3 separate regions of the Homo sapiens genome follow, and all the other regions are linked to region 3. The links come from fine-mapping of genetic effects on gene expression. A gene starts in region 3. Each other region holds a variant in brackets. All regions are shown on one strand. Distances are between the middles of the regions. Region 1 has its middle 22 kb from the start of STK38L. Region 2 overlaps STK38L (serine/threonine kinase 38 like). Region 3 holds the start of STK38L (serine/threonine kinase 38 like).

Evidence for each region. PIP is the estimated chance that this variant, and not a neighbour inherited with it, causes the effect.
Region 1: its variant is fine-mapped to the expression of STK38L in whole blood (INTERVAL, PIP above 0.99).
Region 2: its variant is fine-mapped to the expression of STK38L in whole blood (INTERVAL, PIP 0.98).

Annotation. Positions count from the first base shown.
Region 1 is chr12:27,218,399-27,226,588 of GRCh38, forward strand. No RefSeq gene overlaps it. Among named protein-coding and RNA genes, the nearest start is that of STK38L, 22 kb to the right of the region's middle. RefSeq lists enhancers at 1,804-1,853, 1,994-2,163, 2,184-2,253, 3,913-3,982. The variant CA/C (reference allele first, on the strand shown) is at 4,591.
Region 2 is chr12:27,308,867-27,317,056 of GRCh38, forward strand. It overlaps STK38L (serine/threonine kinase 38 like), which reads left to right. Exons shown (of 14, transcript NM_015000.4): 5 at 248-331; 6 at 3,683-3,806; 7 at 5,638-5,792; 8 at 6,149-6,251; 9 at 6,423-6,484. Among named protein-coding and RNA genes, the nearest start is that of BMAL2, 20 kb to the right of the region's middle. The variant CA/C (reference allele first, on the strand shown) is at 4,382.
Region 3 is chr12:27,241,095-27,249,284 of GRCh38, forward strand. It overlaps STK38L (serine/threonine kinase 38 like), which reads left to right and starts at 3,192. Exons shown (of 14, transcript NM_015000.4): 1 at 3,192-3,238. RefSeq lists enhancers at 1,903-1,962, 4,551-4,600 and a silencer at 3,021-3,260.

The DNA of each region.
Region 1 (8,190 bases), 23 kb before region 3:
AATTTCAACAACTAGAAGTAATCAACATTGTAAAGTATATTATTTCACTCTTTCATAACATTTACATGTTATGTTTTAAATAGATAAAATGTATATAATATGCATAAAATGTATATAAAAAGATATGTGTGTGTGTGTGTGTGTGTATGTACACACACACACACACACAAATTGGGATCATGATTCGCATACTGTTGTTGTGCCTAACAAGATACCTTGAACATTTTTTCATGTCGCTGAGTTTTCCTCTATAATACTTTTCAAAGGCCACATAGTGTTCTGTTGAATCCAGGTACCAATTTATTCAAGAAATCCCTTACTATTAAACATTCCAATTCTTTCTAGATTGTATTATTTGAGACAAGGTCTCACTGTCACCCAGGCTGGAGTGCAGTGGCGTGATCATGGCTCACTGCAGCCTCAACCTCCCTGGCTCAGGTGATCCTCCCACCTCAGCCTCCTGAGTAGCTGGGACTACAGGCATGTGCCACGAAGCTTGACTAATTTTTTAATTTTTTTTTTTTTTGTAGTGCAGGGGTATCCCTATGTTGCCTGGCTGGTCTTGAACTCCTGGGCCCCAGTGATCCACCCATCTCAGCCTCCTAAAATGCTGGGATTACAGGCGTGAGCCACCATGTTCAGCCAATTTTTATTATTATACATAATTCTGTGAGGAATAACTGCATAACTCTCTCACACTTCTGATTATTTCTTAAGGGTAAATATTCATAGACGAGAATGAACATTGTATTTTGATATCACTTGTTTCTGCCTGCCTAGAGTTTCTTCTCATTTTCACATGATAGAACTGACCTCCTACCTCACTCTCTCATTGCCTTTTAGTATCTGCCTCTCCCACAACTGGTAAAATGTTTCATCACATGGCTGGGACTGATCAGAGTGCCCTGTCTCCTACCACTCCAGGCACAGTGACTGGTCCAGGAGTGAGCATATGATCTAAGTAGGGCCAATAAGAGGGAAATTTTCTAGGTCTGATAATAACTCTTGGATGAAAACATCTCTTTCCTTCTGAAATTCTTAAATGGCACCAAAAATCATTTAAGGTTGGGACTGATGAGGGCCCTCTTGATGCCAACATGGAAGAAAGCAGAGCTAAATAATGAAGTGACAAAGGGGGATTCCTACTGACATCTTTTTTCTCTTTCTTTCTTTCTTTTTTTTTTGAGACAAGGTCTCACTGTCACCCAGGCTGGAGTGCAGTGACGCGTTCATGGTTCACTGCAGCCTCAAACTCTTGGGTTCAAGCCATTCTCCTGCTTCAGCCTCCCCAGTGGCTGTGATTACAGGTGTGCACGTCCATGCCTGGCTAATTTATTTTTATTTTTGTAGAGATAGGGTTTCACTATGTTGCCCCAGCTCGTCTGGAACTCCTGGCCTCAAGCGATCCTCCTGCTTCAGGCTTCCAAAGTGCTGGGATTAGAGGTGTCAGCCACTGCGCCCAGCCTGATGCCATCATTTCAGTTCCTGGTCTCAGCCATGACCGAAGCAAGGTGCTTCCCTAGACTTGTCCAATTATTTGACCTAATAAATTTCCCTGTTTATTTAAACTAATCTGAACTGGCTTTCTGTCTTTGGCAATCAAGGCTCTTGACTAATGTAACTATTGTTAAGGTTTTGATATGTATTTCCAAATTACCTCCCAGAACTACATTGCCAAATACACATGTGGAATGTGGAATTTTAAATTGAATTAATGTTAATATTGCTGCAATGTATCAGTGTAGAATTACAGTATGAGTCAATCTATCTTTTTTTCGTATTTCCATACCCTCATGAGTAAAGCAAAACATCTCAAACAAATCATCACACTCAAGTAAGTAAAGGTGGAGACTGTGATGAATAGAGATCAAGCTAGGTTTATATTATGCCCAGACATCAGGCTGAGTACAAGCCCTTGCTGTCAGGGAGGGGGAAATAAGGTCCATGTACCCTGTAGCCAGTTACACAGTGTGTCTCTAATACCTTTACTTTCTTCCCACATGCAGAAGTGAAAGTTAAGAGAAGTCTGAAGAAGGAGTCAGTTCCAAGAAAGGAGTTAAATTATTCAAGAGTAAGTTGTCAACTTCAAGTCAGTGAGCCAAGGCAGAGTAGTTCATAAAGAAACTGTGACTAGACTAGGTGGTACTCAGTTTCTGAGACAGATTTCTGAGCCAGGCCTGTGGGCAGCTGTACGAGGAGATGGGTTGGGGAGGGGTGATTTTAAAAGGATGCTAAATAACACTGGCAAAACCAAATCAACTCCACACACCAGTGAGATGAACTGGAAAACAGTGTTCATTACTCCAGTTTTTCTATCAACTCCTTATGTAGCTGTGGAGCTAAAAACTGGCTCCAGTCTCACTGAGGTAGACACTATCCTTTTTTTATTTTTTTTAATGGAGACAGAGTCTCGTTGTGTCGCCCAGGCTGGAATGCAGTGGTGCAATCTCTGCAACCTCCACCTCCCAGGCTGAAGCAATTCTCATGCCTCAGCCTCCTGAGTAGCTGGGACTACAGACACACACCACCATGCCTGGCTAATTTTTGTATTTTTTAGTAGAGATGGAGTTTCAGCATGTTGGCCAGGCTGGTCTCAAACTCCTGACCTCAAGTGATCCACTGGCCTCAGCCTCCCAAATTGTTGGCATTACAGGCATGAGCCACCACGCCCAGCAGCACTATTCTTTTAAATAAAATTTGTACGATGCTATTGATTTGGACTGGGCCTCTACAGATCAAACCAAAATGGAGTCACTCATGCTAAAGTTTCATGTCACCAAACAGAAACTAAGTCATCTACCTTTCAAGAAACTAAGGGGGAGAGAGAGAAAGAGGGAAAGACAGCATAGCCAAATCCCCTAACAGGCCAGTTTTAGCTGGCATGATAAAGGAGTACCCCCTGCTTTAATCCGATAAGGAAAGTAACTTTGAAATGACCGATTCACTTTTTGTTCCTTATTTCTGCTTTTTTTTAACCCCTTTTCTGCCTATAAAGCCCACCTCTTCTGCTTAGCTCATCAGATCACCTTTTCTAAATTTTTTATTTTATTGATTGATTGATTTTGGGTAGAGATGGGGGTCTCTCTCTGTTACACAGGCTGTTCTCAAACTTCTGGGATCAAGTGATCCTCCTGCCTTGGCCTCCCAAAGTGTTGGGATTACAGGCATGAGCCATGGTGCCCAGCCACCTTTTCTAAATTTTTATGGGAGATAGTACCCTGATCCATTCATCACAAATAAAAGCCAATTAGATCACTTAACTACATTTGTTGTAATTTTGTCTTTTGACAGTTCTCAAAAGGAAATGAAAACAACACTTTATTAGCAGCAGCGCATCTAAAATGGATATTTTTGAGATGCACCTGTGCACTCTTGGTCAGTTGAAACTTCTGAGTCAACAGTAGGTGGCCTAGTGCTGTTTCCCGAGAATGAGTGGTTTAACTCACCCTTTCATATACCTCTCAAAATGATTTCTTGTTCTTAAAATTACGAATAAACAAAACTGAAGTGAGAAGATGAGCTTCAGAAAAATGGGAACTGATCATTAAACTTTTTTTAGAACATTTCCTGTTCTTCAGCTAGTAGAAGTGGATTATTTTAAAAATCTGTTTCTACTTAGACTTTTTATTGATTAAAAAATAATACATTTCTCCATATCCTGACCAAATCAATGTTGAATACACATTGGTAGGATATTGCTTGTAGGGGCTGCTTGACTTGGCCCAGGCTTGCTGGGTGGTTGGACGTGAAGGGTAGGATAAAGCCGCAAAGATCTCCCCACCCCCCAGCCCCAGATTGCTTAACTGAAGAGACTTTGGAGACCAGCTGGGTAGCCAGGATTGCAGAAGAACAAACTTGAGGACCAGCCAGTTCTGCATTAGAAATTTTGGAGGCATTGTCCAGAGCCCTGAGAATGAGAGAAGATCTCCAACCATCCACGGCTGTTTGGGCAAAGAAAGCATCGGGGAAAGGGAGGTAGGACTCAATAGCTGAGAATCAGGCAAAAAAAATCGGGAAAGTGGGTAATTATCTTATTCCCCACTATCTCTCCTTTCCACTGGCCACCCTTCCAGGTATCCTGTGATCTGAATTCCAGCTCTGCTCAGTTCAGCCTGGGGAATCAGAAGAAAAATTGTCTCTGTCCACAAATCCCTTTCCCCTACCTCTGCTGCTTCAGTGACAAAAACTGAAAGAAGAAATTGGTGTAACAAAACTTTAAAATTTGTATATTTAGAAAATCTGAAAGAATCAACAAGGAGAACTCCTGGAACTAGTGCAGGATATGGTTAACATCCAAAAGTCAATTGCAACCAAGTGCAGTGGCTCACGCCTATAATCCCAGCAGTTTTAGGAGGCTGAGGTGGTAAACTGCTTTAGCCCAGGAGTTCGAGACCAGCCTGGGCAACATGGTGAAACCATGTCTCTACAAAAAATAGAAAAATTAGCCGGGCACTGTGGCATGTGCCTGTAGTCTCAGCTATTTGGGAGGTTGAGGTGGGAGGATCACTTGAGCTTGGGAGGTCAAGGCTGCAGTGAGCCATGACCATGCCACTGTGCTCCAGCCTGGGTGACAGAGTAAGACCCTGTCTC[CA/C]AAAAAAAAAAAAAAAAAAAGTCAATTGCTTTCTCATATACCAGCAATGAACAAATGAAATTTGAAATAAAAACCACAATACCATTTACATCAGCATTCCCCAAAATGAAATTGGTAGAAATCTAATAATATATGAAGAAGTTCTAGATAATGAAGAGTATAAAACTCTGATAAGAAAAATTTAAAAAGATCTAAATGATTGGAAAGATATTCCATGTTCATGGACAGGAAGACTTATCTGGTCAAGATTTCAATTCTTCCCAACTTGATCTATAGATTTAATGCATTCTCAATAAAAAGCCCAGCAATATATTTTGTGAACATGAACAAACTGATTTTAAAGTTTATAGGAAGGGAAAAAGACCCAGAATAGCCAACACAATATTGAAGAAGAAGAACGAAGTCAGAGGACCAACACTATACCATAACAAAGACAGTGTGATAGTGGTGAAAGAATAGACAGATAGATCAATGGAACAGAATAGAGAAGCCAGAAATAATTTACATAAATATAATAAAACTGATCTTTGACAAAGTAACAAGGCAATAAAATAGAGAAAAAGAGAAACTTTTCAACAAAAGGTGCTGGAACAATGGAACATCCAAATGGAAAACAAAAATTGAATCTAGACACAGACTTTACACCCTTCACAAAAATTAATTCAGAATGGATCATAGACCTATATGTAAAATGTGAAACTATTAAAATCTCCTAGATAATAACCCTGGAAAAAAATCTAGATGACCTTGGGTATGGCAATGACTTTTAAAATACAATACTAAAGTCATGATCCATGAAATAAGAAGTTGGTAAGCTAAACTTCATTAAAATTTACAACTTCTGCTCTGCAAGAGAATGAGAAGATAAGCCACAGATGGAAGAAAATATTTGCAAATGACATATGTGATAAAGGACTGTTATCTAAAATATACAAAGAACTCTTAAAACTCAACAATTAAAAATGAACAACCTGATTAAAAAATGGGCAAAAAACCTTAACAGAGACCTCACCAAAGACCATACAGAGATGACAAGTATATGAAAAGATGCTCGATATAATATCATATGCCATTAGAAAAATGCAAACTACTAAATGCAAAGTGGCTGCACCACTTTGCAAGATAGTGTGGCAGTTTTTTTTACAAAATCAAACATACTCTTACCATATGATCCAGCAGTTACCTTCCTTGGTATTTACCTAAATAAGTTGAAAAGTTATGTCCACACAAAAACCTGTCCATGGCTATTTACAGCACCTTTATTCATAAATGCCAAGACTTGGAAACAACAAAGATGTCCTTCAGTAGAGGAATGGATACATAAACTGTGGGACATCCAAACAATAGAATATTTTTCGGTGCTAAAAGAAATGAGCTATTAAGGCATTAAAATATATGGAAGAACCTTAAATCCATGTCACTGAGTGAAAAAGCCAGTTTGAAAGGCTACATACTGTATGGTTCCAACTATATCACATTCTGGAAAAATACAAAAATTATGGAGATAGTAAAACAATCAGTGTTTGCCAGAGGTTAGCAGGGAGGTAGGGATGACTAGGCAGAACACATAATATTTTCAGGGCAGTGAAACTGTTTTGTATAATATTATAATAGTGGACACATGTCATCATACATTTTTCAAAACCCATTGAATGAACAGCACCAAGAGTGAACCTTAGTGTAAACTATGGACTTTTAGTGATAATGATGTGTCAATGTAGGCTCATCGATTATAACAAATATGTCATTCTGGTGCTAGATGTTGACAGTTGGGGAGGCTATGTGTGGGGAGGTAGGGGGTATCTGGGAACTCTCTGTACTTTCCATTCAATTTTGCTGTGAACCTAAAACTGCTCTAAAAAATGAAGCCTATTAAAGATGTATTAGCTAAAAAAAAGGGTATAAGTGATGAGTCAGTGAAAGGCAGATAAAAGCATTGAGTAGCAAAGGCTCATTTTCATCAATACTGCCCCATTAAGAAGAGTTTGCTTTCTTCTCTGACATCTTCCATTCCCCACTCCGTTCCTACTTCCACCCTTTTAAGCATTCAGTCACTTTGTAGTCCCCATGCATTTATTTTGTCAAAGTCTGATCTTACGTTAGTATTTCCATATTTTAGGATGGATACACTTTACAGCCTAGACCATAGACCATCCATGCTGAGACAGTTAGAGAGTGATGGGCTTATTCCTAGGTGGGAACAGTTCTATGTGTCTGGTTCCTACCTGTTTGCTCCCAGACTTTCCTGTCCCCTCTCCTTTTTTTCTGTCCCCAGCTCATGGGTACTCTGGATCTAGAATCCTTGCCTTGGACCCACAGTAGAATTGACATGCTGGGCTAGACTGCCCTGGCCTGGCCATTGCCAGTCTTAAGCCTCCAAGTTTCTTTTGCCCTTGGCAACTCCCAGACATATAAGCCCGGCCTTTTTGGTGGGAATGGGGGTTCAAGAGAGACATCTAGAGCTTCTTTTTTCCTTATCAGTTACACTCCACTTCAGAGGTCTAGACCAACTCCCAGTGTGAGTTGCTTCTGGAAGGTTTCTCATTGAACATGTCATAGGTTACAGGTGGTTATGAGACAAAGATGGCTTTAACACATGTTAAACCATTTAGAAACTTAAAAATTTTTATAGCGTTTGAAATTATTTTTGTATTTTTATAGGTAATAATCATACAAAGAAAATAACATATTTTCTTTTTTTTTTTTTTTTTTTTTTTTGAGACAGAGTTTTGCTCTTGTTGCCCAGGCTGGAGTGCAATGGCATGAGCTGGGCTCACTGCAACCTCTGCCTCCCAGGTTCAAGTGATTCTCCTGCCTCAGCCTCCCAAGTAGCTAGGATTACAGGTGCCTGCCACTACTTCCAGCTAATTTTTTGTATTTTTAGTAGAGATGGGGTTTCACCATATTGGCCACGCTGGTCTCGAACTCCTGACCTCTGGTGATCCACCCGCCTCGGCCTCCCAAAGTGCTGGGATTACAGGCCCGAGCTCTATATTTTCTCCAAGTCTTACATAGTTTCTCCCAAATGCCTTTCAGGTTACAAGTGGAGTAAGAGGAACTGAATTACTTCCTGGATGTCAGTACACTTGAGTTTAATCTCAGTTACTCAATAGATGGTGACTGAGGTTATTCATGACTTAATTCCTTCAGATCTTCCTCGCGTATAGGAAGAAGGGAGAAGGACCAGATTGTCATCTGGTCAAGTCTTCTCCAGCCTTAAAATTTTATGATTTCTGTATGTTAAATGCAAATACAGATGGTGACTGTTTGATCCAGCCCAGTTTCCTCCTATATCATGTTTCTCTCAAAGTGAAACCTAAAATCTTGAAAAAGCTTCCTATAAAAGGCCACACTTCAGATTTCATCAACTCCCAAAGCAGACTGTCTATGGATCAGAAATTCTCATCTTGAAGTGGGGCAAGTCCTCACTTGTACACATGTTCTTTCCACTCAAATGCAGACACTGTTCTTGTGGAAAGAGTAGAGGTCAGCCAGCCAGAGGCCCCATTCCGAGGGGATTGAAAGGTCTCCCAAGGCAACCACTCCCAAAGGCGGGTTGAGTTTCTGTGAGCTGTTTCCTGCCTGAACAAACAGCCCCT
Region 2 (8,190 bases), 68 kb after region 3:
TAAATATAAATATATATAAATGTAAATATATAAATATATATAAATATATATTAATATATATAAAATATATATAAATATATATATAACATATATAAAAATATATAGATATAAAAATATATAGATATATATATATAAAATTCCTGAAATACCAACACTGGCAAATTCCTGCTTTCTTTAAGGGAAGTTACTTTTCTTTCCTGAACAAATAGTAGTGACTGTTTTATAATATATGTTTTTTATCTTTTAGGTGCGGTTGGTCCAGAAGAAAGATACAGGCCATATCTATGCAATGAAGATATTGAGAAAGTCTGATATGCTTGAAAAAGAGCAGGTATGAGTTCTTTAACACATGTAATATAAAGGAGCATCCACTGACGCAGTGTTAAGAGTGTTTATATTAGAATTTTTAAGAAGCAGTTTACACATCTTACTACATAAGCTATTAATTTTTTGGTAGCCTGTTTTAGTGTTTCTCAGTTCTTTTAAGGTTTCTTCTAAATTTATAATCTATGTATGTCTGCTTAGACTTCCATAACAGAACACAACAGGCTGGTTAGCTTAAACAACAGAAACTTATTTTCTCATAGTTCTGGAGGCTACAAGTCAAAAATGAAAGTTTGGGCAGGTTTTGGTTTCTGGTGAGGCCTCTCTTCCTGGCTTGCAGATGGCCACCTTCTCACTAAGTTTTCACATGGCCTTTCCTTGGTGTGTGCGGGGACACACACTCCTGTGAGAACTCTCTGGTGTCTCTTCTTATAAGGACATTAATTCCACCCTTATGACCTCATTAATTAACCTTAATTAATTCCCTAAGGGTCCATCTCCAAATACAGCCTCATTGGAGATTAAAGCTTTACTCTATGAATTTTGTAGATGCATGAACATTCAGTACATACCTTCTGAAATACCTCCTTTTCTGACTACAATGAAAATAAAGGACAGTTCTCAGCTCCCAGAATCCCTGTCACATATCAGATAATCAAAACTAGTCTCCTGGAAATTTGCTGATTTTACATATTTCTAAAATCTGTAACCTTGTAAATATTCTGGGCTCTCTGCATGTTTCCTGTGCCTTAATGCAGTTACAAGGGGTGGCTTCGAGTAAAGGAGGGATGGCTTTTTGAATATTTAAGGAGAGAAATTGTGAAATGGTCATTTTCAGGTGCGGGAAAGCAGACCTGCTAAGGAAATGCAGTTGAAGGCTCATTGAGATTTGCAGTCATGAATTTAAAGTGAAACCCATTGGCATAGCTGGGTGATTTTTCACCCTAGTTTCAGTTAGGTTAAGAAGGTAATAGGAACCATCAGGAGACAGGGTTATAGGGGATTTTGTTGATGACAGGCTATGATTCCCCAGAGGGAAGAGGTGTGGAAGGCAAGGAAGGTTGAGATACTGAGTTGGATTAGAGAACTATAGATAATGATGGGAATATAGCAAGACCCCATTCTCCACAAAAAGGAAGAAAAAAGAAAGATAATGATGGCAATAAGGACGTGGGTAAAGATGCATAGCCTCAGAGACAGGGAGGGCAACAGGAATCTAACTTAGCCATAATGGGATTAGTCCTACTAGGGTATAATAGGAAGGACAGAAGGAAGCAGTTAGTTCCAGCTGTAGTGTAGATACCAGCCAGCCACATGTGGCTACTGGGCACAAATTGGGATATCCAGCAAATAAGGCTTGGTGCAAAAATAAATAAATAAATAAATAAAATATTTCAATGATTTTTATATTGATTACATACTAAGGTGATAATATTCGGATATATTAGGTTACATAAACTGTATTATTAAAAATAATTTCATTCTGTATGTGGCTTCTAGAAAATTTAAAAATTACATACATGACTTGTGTTACATCTGTACTGGACAGCCCTTGGTCTACAATATTTTGTGGGAAGTTAAGGAGCCTCTGGACCACTGCTCTTTCCTGTGGGGAGGTGGGGGGCGGAAATCTCTCCGTAGCCTAACGTCTAGTTGCCTTTGCATTTTGGGGTTGTTTTTTACCCCTGTATAAATTAATTTGCATTTGTTACCACTGGATTTTGTTTTAGAAAGCTTTTTTCTACTCAATTCTAATACATCAATATTTTAACTTTTATCACATTTATTTTAATGCAAACCACCCCCACAAAATTAAATACCAACTGATCTCCTCACTGTTGTTCTACCAGATTACTATAGGTCATACTTTCCAACCTTTGGATCCTGTTTTGGAAAGGGATCCTGTAATTTGGCTTTAAACCATTTAAAAATAATCAAGCCATGTTTATGTTGTAGTTGTTTTCCTTACACACCAGATGCAACACCAAAGTTTAGGGCTTTTCCTTACCACCTTAAATTGCTTCATGAAAGGTAATAGGTAGGCACTCTTGCTACCACTTTTCACTTAATGAAACAGATCCATAGAAATTATAAAGTATTTTCATGCCAGAAGACAAGTTCTTACTCCTCAACTCTTACGCTTTGATCTCAGAATATTTACTGCACTAGGAGTAATTCCAAATATGACACTTTAAGCAGATCATATTTTATTATCATAGAAAGGTTTACAAATGTATGTTCTCATGTGCTTTGGACCAGAGTTTTTAACGTTGCACAATGAAAATAGCAAAAGCATAAATCAAATCTTATTAATCTTTGGAAAAAGTGTATAAATATATTAATGCAAAAGCATCTGCAAACTGACCAGTTATACCAACCCCATAAATTATCCAGTTTATAAAATTTTCCAGTCTATAACATTTTCACATGATAGTATCTCTAGTAATTATGTGTCCGAGAAATCAGTGGCAAAATCCCCAAAAGTTACACAAATTTGCTTTAGCTAACATTTATAGATATGGTAGAGGTTTTATATTATAACAATAATATAACATAAAGTTACTATAATTGTTACTATTTCTTTAAAAAACACCAAATAATGATCAAGCTGGGACCTTTGTTTAACAATTAAAAATAGTTTGCTATTTTTAGCCAAGCTTAGGTTTGCTGTACCAATTTACAGGGCATTGCTTACTCTTTTTTTTTTTGAGATGGAGTCTCGTTCTGTCACCAAGCTGGAGTGCAGTGACGCAATCTCGGCTCACTGCAACCTCCGCCTCCCGGGTTCAAGCGATTCTCCTGCCTCAGCCTCCTGAGTAGCCGGGACTACTGGTGTGTGCCACCATGCCTGGCTAATTTTTTGTATGTTTAGTAGAGACGGGGTTTCACCGTTTTAGCCAGGATGGTCTCAATCTCCTGACCTCGTGATCCACCTGCCCTGGCCTCCCAAAGTGCTGGGATTACAGGCGTGAGCCACTGTGCCCGGCCCTGCTTACTACTTTTAACTTTAAAAATCACACTAGTGCCCTAAATTTATGTGACAAAGCCAGGATCCTAGGCTGGGTAGAGATTCTGGTTAAAAAGTTGTTAGACTGATTCTTGCTCTACCTCAGAGGCCTCAGCTTCACGTAATATACCTGTTGACCTCACCTTTTCAGACCTAAAGATATAAGCTAAAATAAACTATTTCTTGAGGTTCTCCATATTTGATGAGAATACGAACATTCATACATGTATCAAATCTTCTGAAACTCCATCTTTCCTTCATTAACTGTTATGGATGGATAAGTGTAAGAGATGAGTTTAACAAATGTGTGATGTATTTACAATTATTTTTTTCAAAAATATATTCATCTAGGTGGCCCATATCCGAGCAGAAAGAGATATTTTGGTAGAAGCAGATGGTGCCTGGGTGGTGAAGATGTTTTACAGTTTTCAGGATAAGAGGAATCTTTATCTAATCATGGAATTTCTCCCTGGAGGTAAAAGCAAACATTGTATCAATGACAGACTGATACAAGCACATCTTTATATGCAACAATAATTTTATTGGTGAGGTTTACTTTTATATTCTTTGCTCTGAGGCTTTACATAGTCACAGTTTAAAAATATTTACTACCATATTGATGCTCATTTTTACCACAAAACAGATTGTTTTGAAGGAATTATAAAGTTAGCACATTTTAAATATTACCGTTCTGGGTTCACTGTATATAATTAGGTTGTTATAAGTTGTGTTAGTTTATTTTATGTTGTTACAAAAAATACCTGAGACTGGATGGGCGCAGTGGCTCACGCCTGTAATCCCAGCACTTTGGGAGGCCGAGGCGGATGGATCACGAGGTCAGGAGATCAAGACCATCCTGGCTAACAAGGTGAAACCCCGTCTCTACTAAAAATAAAAAAAATTAGCTGGGCGCAGTGGCGGGCGCCTGTAGTCCCAGCTACTTGGGAGGCTGAGGCAGGAGAATGGTGTGAACCCGGGAGGCGGAGCTTGCAGTGAGCCGAGATAGCGCCACTGCAGTCCGGCCTGGGCGAAAACAGCGAGACTACGTCT[CA/C]AAAAAAAAAAAAAAAAATACCTGAGACTGTGTAATTTATAAAGGAAAGAGGTTTAATCATTGCTCAGCAAAGAGGGCAAGGGGAAAAGAATGGCAATGGAGGGCAAAGAATTCTGGGTTTTGTTTTGTTTTGTTTTAATTTTTATTTTTTGAGATGAAGTCTCGCTCTGTTGCCTAGGCTGGAGTGCAGTGGTGTGATCTTGGCTCACTACAACCTCTGCCTCCCGGGTTCAAGCGATTCTCCTGTCTCAGCCTCCTGAGTAGCTGGGATTACAGGTGCCCACCACCATGCCCAGCTAATTTTTTTTGTATTTAGTAGAGACGGGGTTTCACCATGTTGGTCAGGCTGGTCTCAAACTCCTGACCTCAAGTGATCCACCCACCTCAGCCTCCCAGAGTGTTGGGAATACAGGCGTGAACCACTGCCCCTGGCTCCCTATTTTTTTTAAAGCCTCAAAAAATATATGAAAAAAATGTAATCAGTTGTCAATTCTGTGTTGTAAGTGCACCAGTGTTTACAACAGTTAAAACTGTTAAAACTTTTAAAATTCCTTGAAAATAAAAGAATGTCTGCAGGTGCCTTTTTTAGTGGGATAATGTCCCACTAAACTCTAAAAGAATATATTTCGTTTCCAGGTGCACTTATTCTGATTTTTTTGCAGTTTGACATTTTCCTCAGCAGTTAATTCTAGAAGTTGAGTGGTAGATATTACTTCATTATCAGCTCTTTTGTGATTTGATTTCACATGGTCTCTGCCTTAAAACCATTAAAAGTCATGAAACTTCTGCTATGCAATAGCACTTTTATTTGTCCCAAGATGTGGTTAGAAATATACTGGGTAGATCATAAAATGCAAACTCAGGAAAGCTAGCTGGGCATGGTGGCTCATGCCTGTAATCCCAGTACTTTGGGAGGCCAAGGCAGGCAGATAGCTTGAAACCAGGAGTTTGAGACCAGCCTGGCCAACATGGCAAAACCCCATCTCTACTAAAAATACAAAAATTAGCTGGGTGTGGTGGTGCACACCTGTAATCTCAGCTACTTGGGTGGCTGAGGCATGAAAACTGTTTGAACCCAGGAGGCGGAGGTTGCAGTGAGCCATGATCACACCACTGCACTCCAACCCAGGCAACAGAGTGAGACTCTGTCTCCAAAAAAAAAAAAAAAAAAGTAAAAAAAGCAGGAAAGCTTTTACAAGGTATTCCACCTTTGAGGCATTTTCAATAATAATATATTTGACTATCCTTTATTTAGGTGACATGATGACATTGCTAATGAAGAAAGACACCTTGACAGAAGAGGAAACACAGTTCTACATTTCAGAGACTGTTCTGGCAATAGATGCGATCCACCAGTTGGGTTTCATCCATCGGGATATTAAGCCAGACAACCTTTTATTGGATGCCAAGGCATGTGAATAAACTGGTGAATTACTAGGCTGTTGATTATTTTTTAGAGCAGTAGGGCTGATTTTGTGAATGGAAATCAGCAACTGCAATTTAGAATATTGCTAAACAACATTATATGATAAGGTACTAGGAGAGGACTTGGGAATTAAATGACAACAGGGAATATGGCTCTCTTTTTATCTCCCTCCATTTTCTACTTTTAAAAATCATCATCAGATACTTAAAATTTTACATTTTACGTGTATAAATCCCAAGCTAAGAATTTTTATTATAATTGCCATTTAATAGAGGAGTTTATAACAAGGCTTTTTGTTTTCAAAGTTAATATGATCTAATTTTACTGGATTTTTTTTTAGGGTCATGTAAAATTATCTGATTTTGGTTTATGTACGGGATTAAAGAAAGCTCACAGGACTGAATTTTATAGAAATCTCACACACAACCCACCAAGTGACTTCTGTAAGTTTGGTTGTTGTTTTTCTTCTTTCCCCTGGTTAAGATACTGTAGAGAACAGAAGGTTCTTTCCCTTTCCCCACTCCTTAATCCACTGTGTTTTAGATGTATATGTATTTTCTTTTTGTGGAGAGCATTTTTCCCTCGTGATTACAATTCCATATTGTTGAAATTAGCATTTCAGAACATGAACTCAAAGAGGAAAGCAGAAACTTGGAAGAAGAACAGGAGACAACTGGTGAGTCAACCAGTTTTTAAGAGAATTTTATGCCTTGGTTCTAAAATCTTACCTGGTTTTAACTTGATTATTTTTATCTTTATAATAATTAGTATTTACTTCATAACAATGGTAGCGCTTGCTCTGGGATCACACAGTTTTCTTAGTTTCTCTGTTAAGTTTCCTTGCCTGTAAAGCAAAGTGTTGGTTTTTACTTTGTAACTTTAGAGTAGTTTACTGAGCATACCTACAAGTAAGCTGTTTACTAGTAATTAGCACTTTAAATAAAACTCACTGAGGTGAATGCAATTGTAATGAATGCCTTGTGATTTCCATTTTTCCATTTTTCATAACTGTGTTACAAATCCTGATACAACAAATATCAATCAGCAAGTAAGGTGGTTGTGAGTTTCTAAAAACTTCTTTATAGACAAAGTAAACAGGAAGTTTGGGATGTAAACAGTGTTACAATAAAACAGATAAAATTTGAAAAAGCTGGCTTTGCCACAGATAAATTTAATTACTCCTTTAATATAGAATTACATTATTTTTAACCCCATACTATTTCCTTTCTATAACTGAGCAAATAGAAGAATTGCTTCCCCTTTCTCCTCTTTCCCTTTGTCCTGTTAACATGGTCCATCAACAGTCTACAGGTTAAGAATGTGCCTTAGGATTTTCTTTTTCTCATTTCTTATAAAATGCCTGGCACATACGGACACTCTATAAATACTTGTTCAACCAAATGATGAAAGGAAAACTAATTCAGCATTCCCTCAGGAAAGTAAACAGACTGAAAAATAATAGGCTAATACCCTCTAAAACCAAATAAAATGACCTTTGCATTATTGAGCTTATTATCTCATTAACCTAAGTAACTGCAAAAACTTGTAAAACATTTCAGTATTTTTAAATGTATTGAGTTACACATTAAGGAGAAAAACTTTGTTCTACTTTTAAAATGTGTCCATTTTAGATCAGGTTTTGCAATTGAGAATAATTGCAATATTCCCTATTTTTAAAGGGGAAAAACTGAATACTGCTCAAAATTATGGTGGGGGAATTCTGTACCCCCCTATTTACAAAATATTCATGGGTGATTACTCAGGTGTGTGTTTTATTATTCTCATGGCCAGTAGTTGCCAAGCCTTAGATCGAGTGTTTCCCAAGGGAGAAGTAGAGAGGACTCAGTGTTTGGGGCAGGAAATTTCTTTAGCACCTGGATCCCCTGCCCTGTAAATGCCAGTTATGTCACTGAGATGACAAAATCTGTGGTCCTACATTTTGCCATGGCCCCAAGAGTACTACCCCTGGTTGAGAATTACTGCCTTGTAGAAATCATTTTTGTAAGATTTTATATGAATTAAGAATTAAAAACTGCATAGCTTCCTAAAGGATAAGCAGTACCCTGGAATTACATTTATAATGAAAATACCTCATGCTTATTTTTGTAGTTTGTAGTTTACAAAACACATGCCGTTTATTGTTTCATCTTCATATCAACTCTATTAGGGCAGGTATTATTATTCTAGTTTTATGTAAGCAGAAGCTGAGCCTCAGAGAAATTGAATAATTTGCCCAAGAACACATTAGTAGTGAGTGGGGAAGCCAGGTCTTCTAGGTTCAACTTTTTCATTCTTTTTGAAATAGACTGAAGGCTATATATATAAATAACTTAACTGAGCTTCTTGTGGGGGCAGAAATGATATATTCTTATAAAATGCCTG
Region 3 (8,190 bases):
ATAGTTATATATATTACATATATGACTCTGTATAGTTATATATATTACATATATGACTCTGTATAGTTATATATATTACATATATGACTCTGTATAGTTATATATATTACATATATGACTCTGTATAGTTATATATATTACATATATGACTCTGTATAGTTATATATATTACATATATGACTCTGTATAGTTATATATATTACATATATGACTCTGTATAGTTATATATTACATATATGACTCTGTATAGTTATATATATTACATATATGACTCTGTATAGTTATATATATTACATATATGACTCTGTATAGTTATATATATTACATATATGACTCTGTATAGTTATATATATTACATATATGACTCTGTATAGTTATATATATTACATATATGACTCTGTATAGTTATATATATTACATATATGACTCTGTATAGTTATATATATTACATATATGACTCTGTATAGTTATATATTACATATATGACTCTGTATAGTTATATATATTACATATATGACTCTGTATAGTTATATATATTACATATATGACTCTGTATAGTTATATATATTACATATATGACTCTGTATAGTTATATATATTACATATATGACTATGTATAGTTATATATATTACATATATGACTATGTATAGTCATATAGTTATATATATTACATATATGACTATGTATAGTCATATAGTTATATATTACATATATGACTATGTATAGTTATATAGTTATATATATTACATATTATGTAATTTTTTCACTAAACTCAAACTGAAAATTAGCATTTCTTCCATCATGAATGTAGGCAGCAAACCACAGGAATATTAGCAATACCTGTGACTTTTCCTCAATAGGAATCACACATATTTTCTACCCCATTAAAGTTGTTGTAGATATCTCAAAATATTGTTTCTGTGTATCATTACTACAAAATTACTGTAGGTCTTGATCTTATTATTTAATGCATTAATAAAGAGGCAAATATATAACTATTTTAGTTATCTATGGCAGTGTAACATAGTATCCCAAAAGTTAGTGGCTTAAAACCACAAATATTTATTGTCTCACAGTTTCTGTGGGCCAGAAATCTGGGCTTGGCTAGTTGGGCCTGCTGGCTCAGTATCTGGTTTTACAAGGCTGCAGTCTAGGTGTCAGGTGGGGCTGCAGTCATCTCAAGGCTCAACTGGGAAAGAATCTACTTCCAAGCTTACTTACATGATTATTGGCAGTATTCAGTTCATCACAGGTTGTTGGACTGGGGGCCTGAATTCCTTGGTGGCTGTTGACTGGATCTCTCTCAGTTCCTTGCCATGTGGGCTTCTCTGTAAGGCAGGTCACAAGACAGCAGCTGGCTTCCATGAAAGCGAGCAAGTGAGAGAGCAAGGACAAGCAAGATGGAGCCCAGAATATTTTTGTAACCTAATCACGGAAATGATATCCTAATCACTTTTGCTATATTTCCTTTTTAAGAACTAAGTTACTAGAGAAGGGAATTACAGAAGGCAGGAATACTAGAAGGCGTGGATCATTGGCAGCCATCTTAGATGCTACTACTACTTACCACATAATTATATTACAAACTCACTTTTTAGTATTTTGGTAACTGTATGTTAACATTATCAATTTCCTTTGTAACCCTAGGTAGTTTATGCATTTAAGAACACTGTTTTGAAAAGGGGTCCATAGACCACCAAAATTCTGGTTCATAGCTCTAATTTGTTTCAGTTGAGGTACTTTCAACAACTTCCCAGGGAAATTTGTTTACAATGGTCTCAATTTAGGAGAATTTAGGAACTAGAGGTCAAAGTCTTAGGCTATCCCATATTAACCTAGACTGCTACTCTATACTAGTTCATATTACTCTAGTATGGCACATTTGAAGACATAAATTTGCTGTGGAACAAACCATACACTGTTCTCAATCTTATCGTAGCATTTGAATGGTATGTGTATGCGTGCAGTACAGGGAGAAGGGTGTATAGGCCTGTCAAGCTTGTCTGATCACAATTAAACCTCCTATGCTTGTATATGACAACTGTCATTTGAGTTTCAAAATGACCATATAAGTGGAGCTGATCTCCCCAAAAATACACTAATTACCAAACTAGAGCTTTTCCCACTACTAAGCTATGTATGAAAAAGCACAGTGTAAGAAAGAGAAATGAGGTAATGCTTCTTTCCTAGGTGTTTTGCTCGTGTCACCTGCTCTTGGGAAACCTAAAGATGACAGGTGGCATTTCTAAGTGATAGTTTTTGCAAGCACAGTACCAGCTTCATACGTTGTCTCAGTAAGCTAAAAGCTAAGAATATTTTATAAGACCTCCAATACTCATATTGAGGATAAACTTGCCAACAATAATTGGGAGTCATTCTCTCATTTGGCTTTCCCAAAGGCCAGTTTTGTCCCCAGACGCAAATTGCATCAACCTTCCCAAAGTTGTCCCTTTTGGGTCATCCTATAGGGGAGTGCTCTTCTGCACAATTCTCAGATCCTACTGATAAAGCAGGCCAGTACTGTAGTTATTTTAGATTTTCCAAGAAAACTCAAACAGGTTTTTAATGTATTTTTTGTGGCATTTACAAATCCTGGTTCCTCTCCAGTCTCTGGAGTCCCCTCATGGTGAAATGGAAGCGTCAAGGAACCTGGGTGGCTTCGAGTCCCCACAGCTACCGACTGAGCAACTTAGCTGATCCATCTTTGTTGACAACTGTTTCCCAATCTGAAAAATGCGTGAATTCTCTCTTTCCATTTCTAACATTCTTTGCATTGCACTGTTTGAAAAATTCGGATGACATTTAGAATGTGACTAATGTCGCAACACATTAGGCCACTCTCAAGAGAGGCCTGAACAGGTTTGGCGTAAAAACGGCAGTGAGGTGAGGCTGGTGAGAGGGGAAGTGGCGACAGTTCAGTCAACTCCCTCAAAACCAGTCTGGCCTTCACCAGGCGGAGATGGGTGGGGCCGGGAAGACGGGCGTTGACGACAGAAGGCTACTTCCGGCTGTGGTGCGTATGACGTCAGGGCGAGTCGGACCGACCCAGCCACCGAGAAGCCGAGGAGGCAAGGCTCGCGAGAGTTCAGGGAGGCCGCCCTGAGATTCCGGCGAGGCCGCGGGTCCCACCTCCCGGGGGCGGGGCGAGGGCGGAGCGGGGAGAAGGGAGCTGACGGGCGCCCGGCCGGCTGCGGTCCGTGCGGAGGCTGAGCCGGCCGCGGGCGCGACCGGAGGCAGGTGAGTTCGCGGATGTAGCGCTCGGCTGAGGGCCCGAGCTCGCCGCGCCAGCCCCAACTCTGCGAGCAGGAGCAGGAGGAGATTTTAGGTGTCTTTGGGTGTCCAGGGAAAGCCGGGCTAATTCTGGGGCTGGAAATGTCTCCGGGGAACCTGCGGCGACGGCCTTGGCCCTCTTATTCCCCGGGGTGATACTGGCCCCATGTGTCCAGAGAGGGAGCCTCGCACCCGGGGAGGAATCTTTGTCCTCTGCTCCTTTCTCCTTCCACTCCCCGGCCCCCGAGCACTCCGCTCCGGGTCCCCGCCTGGGCTTCACAAACAATAACAAATGTCGCGGATCCTCTCCGGGTAGCCCCAGCGCTCCCGTCCCGTGCCCTCCAGCCGATGTCACCCAGAGCCAGGATCCGAAGCATGGCTCTTCAATTGTGGGGGCTGTTTGTGTACCGTTCCTAAAAACTGATGCGTCAGATTGCCAAACATTTCTCAAGACAGACTCAGGAAAGCCTCCCAGCTCCTAGAAGCCACGGAGTGCTCAAAACCAGTCTTAGAATCTGTCTTTACCATTGCACCCGTAGCCCCTTCCTTTCAAAATCATTTCTCCCACTCCTTTTTTCACCTTTAGTATCGAGGTCGAACGAGTGGTTATTTGGTGTGGGAGTAGAAAAGAGTATAACCGATTGAGTAGGGCACGTTTCACCTTTAAAAAGTTGCCAGGTTGACAGCAAAAGAACAAACTTTATTTTCAAAACCAGTGGCCTCCCCTTTTACTGGTGCTGCTTTTGTTTTGTGGAATAGCTTTTCGGGTTCTAAGTTTGGAGGAATGATATAAAAAGAAGTGGGAGGTGGGGGGAGGGCTAGTGGCTCTGGAAGTAGTGGCTTGTCCAAAAGTAGGATGCTATTGTTTCTCACTTGATAAAATGCAGAACCAACACTTTTACCCATTTCACATAACTTGTGATAAGTTTTGAGAGAAGCCACTTAATCGGAAATGGCCTATTAGCTTATTTTACTGCTCAAATCTGAAAAAACAGCTTTAAGTGATTTAAGTTCTGCCTCTTGATTGTAAGATGGGGATTGATGAGTGAGACCTTGTCTTTTTTGGCGCTGGGGCTTACGTTTGACCGGTCTCTCTACTTTAAGGCAGGGCCTATTGTACTTAAGCCCATTTTTGCTTCCTCAGTACAGATTCTTGAAAGTTCTTTGTCTCAATCATATATGTATATAAGGTACTGTAAACCTCTTTGAATTTGATTGGCCTTTCTCTCTGTGCCTCAGGATATGTAAAACAATTAAGTTTATTATACTCTCTCCCCAGTGGCTGAGAGGTATTGTATGTGAATTAGCCACCCTTGTGACTATTTGAGGAGAGAGAAGTTAGTCTAAAATATTATGTTAAATTATGATATTACATAATTTTATTGCATAAGTTCATCAAACTACTTCCATCTGAAAAATCCTGATCTCAAAATAGGTAGGTACAATGAATTAAAAAATGTTTTGGTTTGACCTCACTTAGCTTTGTTTTCTCCTTGTTAAGATGGCTGATAATGTTTCCCATTTGGTTGTGATGTGTTTAGAATGAGAAGCAAAGTTGGGTGTAGTTTTTGTACTCTTTTGAAAGGCCTTGCCACTAGGAATGAAAAAATTAGACTTAGAAAACACACATTAAATAGAAGCAGTTTTTCTCTAGCCATTTGCTCTTGAGTTTGTTTTAAAATAAGTCAAAGAATGGAGACTGAGATGATTTGTGCCAACAAATAGATGTCCTTGTTAGTTTTTATGCTGAAAACTTGATTTCTAAAGGTAGGACACTGTAAGAACAAAGGAGAAATTGGACTTCCTAAAAAATGATAACAAAGCAATGGACTCAGTTCAGCTGTTTGCTTTCAGAAAAGTTCTGTTCTCTTAAAGTAAGGAGAGCATCATTGTGTTAGTGAAATTGGATAACGCACCTTAGAAAGTGCCTCCCCAGTGATCCAGGATAAGTTGGAGGCTCTTTTGTGTGTGTGTGGCACTTTTTGTTAAGAGGGAGAAAGGGCACAAATCAGAGCCAGAAAGATTTGCATCTCGATGTATTGTTAAAATGCTTTTATTTTATGTAAATAGTGTCAGGTGAATCAAGCAAGCATATTGTTGTCTAGCATCCTTAGGATTACATTAAAATCAGCAGATTGGCAAGTTATGATTAGGTTAGACTTGACATATGCAGAAATTATGCTTCTGTATTTTTATATTAAAAGCACCATGGTCTTTTTGAATGAAATAATGAAAGCAAGCTTTTAAGACATAACTTTTTTAAAAAATTAAAAATCTGTCTTTGGTTAGTTTATAAACATGAAGCATATCCTCCTCTTCTTCCCCCCAAAATTTTTGTTTAAGTCTTAAGAAAGTCTTTAGCAAGGTATGACCAGTACTTAAGTGCACTGGTTGCATAAGCCTTCTGTCTCCAGGTAAAAGTTTGCTAATTGACAGGGTATTATTGTTCAGAATCTTTAGAGGGAGAGAAATGAAAGGCAACAGTGAACAGTGTTTGCTGCTCTGTACACTCGGACGAACTGTGGTTGCTACTCTGTACACTCGGACGAACTGTGGTTGCTGTCTTCAAGGAGATGTGATCCAGTGGGAGAGAAATATACCTACCCAAATAAATACCATAGAAAATGTGTTTTATGAGGAAGCCAAGGAGGGAGGGATTAAGTGCTGCTAGACCAATTAAGGAAGACTGAAATAGGAAAAGGCGTTTCTGTGGATGATTTAAGTGATCTAGTCATATGATAATGATGATAAGTAAATACTTTATATAATGCTGCTTCCTGCTAAATCCTTTACATATATTACTTACTTGCCTGGCTTTAATCCTCACAACAACTGTATGGAGTAGGTATTTTTATTATTCCCGTTTTGCAGATGAAGTAACTGTGGTACTAAGGTTAGATAGCTATTGAGTGGTAGGACCAGGATTCTGACCCAGGCATTCTGGCTTGTACCCATATGGCATGCTTAACTGCAATCCATATTTTCTCTCCTGTTCATGATGGTCTTCCTCAGATCTGTAGTTTCAAAAACTTGACTTGGGAAATACATTCTTCTGACATCTAAATTTTGGGGTCAGTTTTCTAGAAAGAGTTCCAAAATAACACCCAAGTAAATGAGTTATTTTTGACATGTTATTTTAATCCATTTTTGGAAGTTATTCTTGGTGCAGATTAAATATAACTATTGAGTGGGACTTTTTAATAATTTTGACTTATTACCTATAAGTACTCATAAGAACTTAGAAGTGAGAAGTTATTCCATATTAACTCTTTTGCTTAATGGAATGTTTGCGTCTTTGTATATTTTGTCCTGTAATTTATTTTTTTTAAAGAAAGAACCTCACTGTCTTGCCCAGCCTGGACTCGAACTTCTGGGCTCAGATGATCTTCTTGCCTCCTAAGTTGCAGGAACTATAGGCCTGAGCCACTGTGTTTGGCTTTGTTCTGTAATTTTTTTTTTTTTTTTTTTTGACAGAGTTTAAGTCTGTCTTTTAGGCTGGAGTGCAGTAGTGCAATCATGGCTCATTGCAACCTCTGCCTCTCAGGCTCAAGCGATCCTCCCACCTCAGCCTCCTGAGTAGCTCGGACTACAGGTGTGCACAAGCACGCCCGACTGATTTTTAAATTTTTTGTAGAGACAGGGTTTCACTATGTTGCCCAGCCTGGTCTCGAACTCCTTGGCTCAAGTGATCCTCCTGCCTTGGCCTCCCAAATGTTGGGATTACAGGTGTGAGCCAATGTGCCCAGCCCTGTTCTATAATTTTTTAAACCACTTGGCACTGGATAGTTTTTGGGTTGAATTATGAAGTTGAAATTTAGTTAATGATTGAATGTTGGTCTCAGCCCTTTTAGTTTATTTTCATGAATAGCTATGCTTATAATGGCAGAAACAGGGTGAATAGAGTGTTGTACATGTAAAAATGAGAGAAGTTCCATCACTGATACTTTATGTTGGGGCAACTTTGACAGTTCTTTGGGTTTGTGAAATAAAGGGTGCTATAGAAGTGCACAGTGTCTTGTATAGGCCTACTCAGTACTGTAAATGTCCACCTGATTTTATTTATGAAGTTTCAGGAATAGTCCACATTTGTTATTGTTTAAGAATTGGAATCACAAATTCAATTGGATTTAAAGGTTAGAAAAAAAGTATACCTAGGCAGGGAATACAGCAGGTGAGCGGTGGGAGAGGTATTGCCTGCCTTTTCCTAACTGTCCAGCAGGATCCAGACTCTTCAGCTTCTTTGTCAGTGCCTGCAGTTGACCGTACTCATAGTTTAAGTACAGCTCCAGAGTCATAGTCTCTGTGAACGAATATAAGTATTCTCCACTTGACTCAATGGGGTAGGTTCTAGAAGACACCTATACTAGGACAGTTGATGGTTGATGAGCTTAAAACCTAATGGGAAGAGTAGCAGAACTAAAGCCAGGATTTAAAGCACGTGTGTTTATATTATTGAAATAAGACAGAGATGGCAAAACAAATTTTAAAAAGTTTTTTTTTGAAACATACCTTAAATTAATAGTGATGGTATATCATTTCCATTTACCATGCCCTGATTGGCAGATCTTTAGCCCATCATTTCATGGAGATACTTAGATGTGGACTTCGCTTTGTTATAAAAAGTTTCCAAGTTCTTCTAAGTACAGGTGGTTTGGGAAGATTGTCTTAGTAAAAAGGTGTGTGAGTAGGTCTATCAAAAGAAAACCAGTCATACTGTTACCTCCTTGCTGATTCAAGTTTTGGGGGCATCTTTTCCCACCAGGAACAGCTTATCTGCATTGAACGTCTGCTGAGGCAGGTAGCCTGCCTCTTAGATGAGCTCTGCACAGATCTTAGGGAAGACCTTAACAGTTACAGGTCATGTGGTGACCTGATCATTCACAGTCATATTGTATAAATTCCAAACAGGCCTGGAGCCT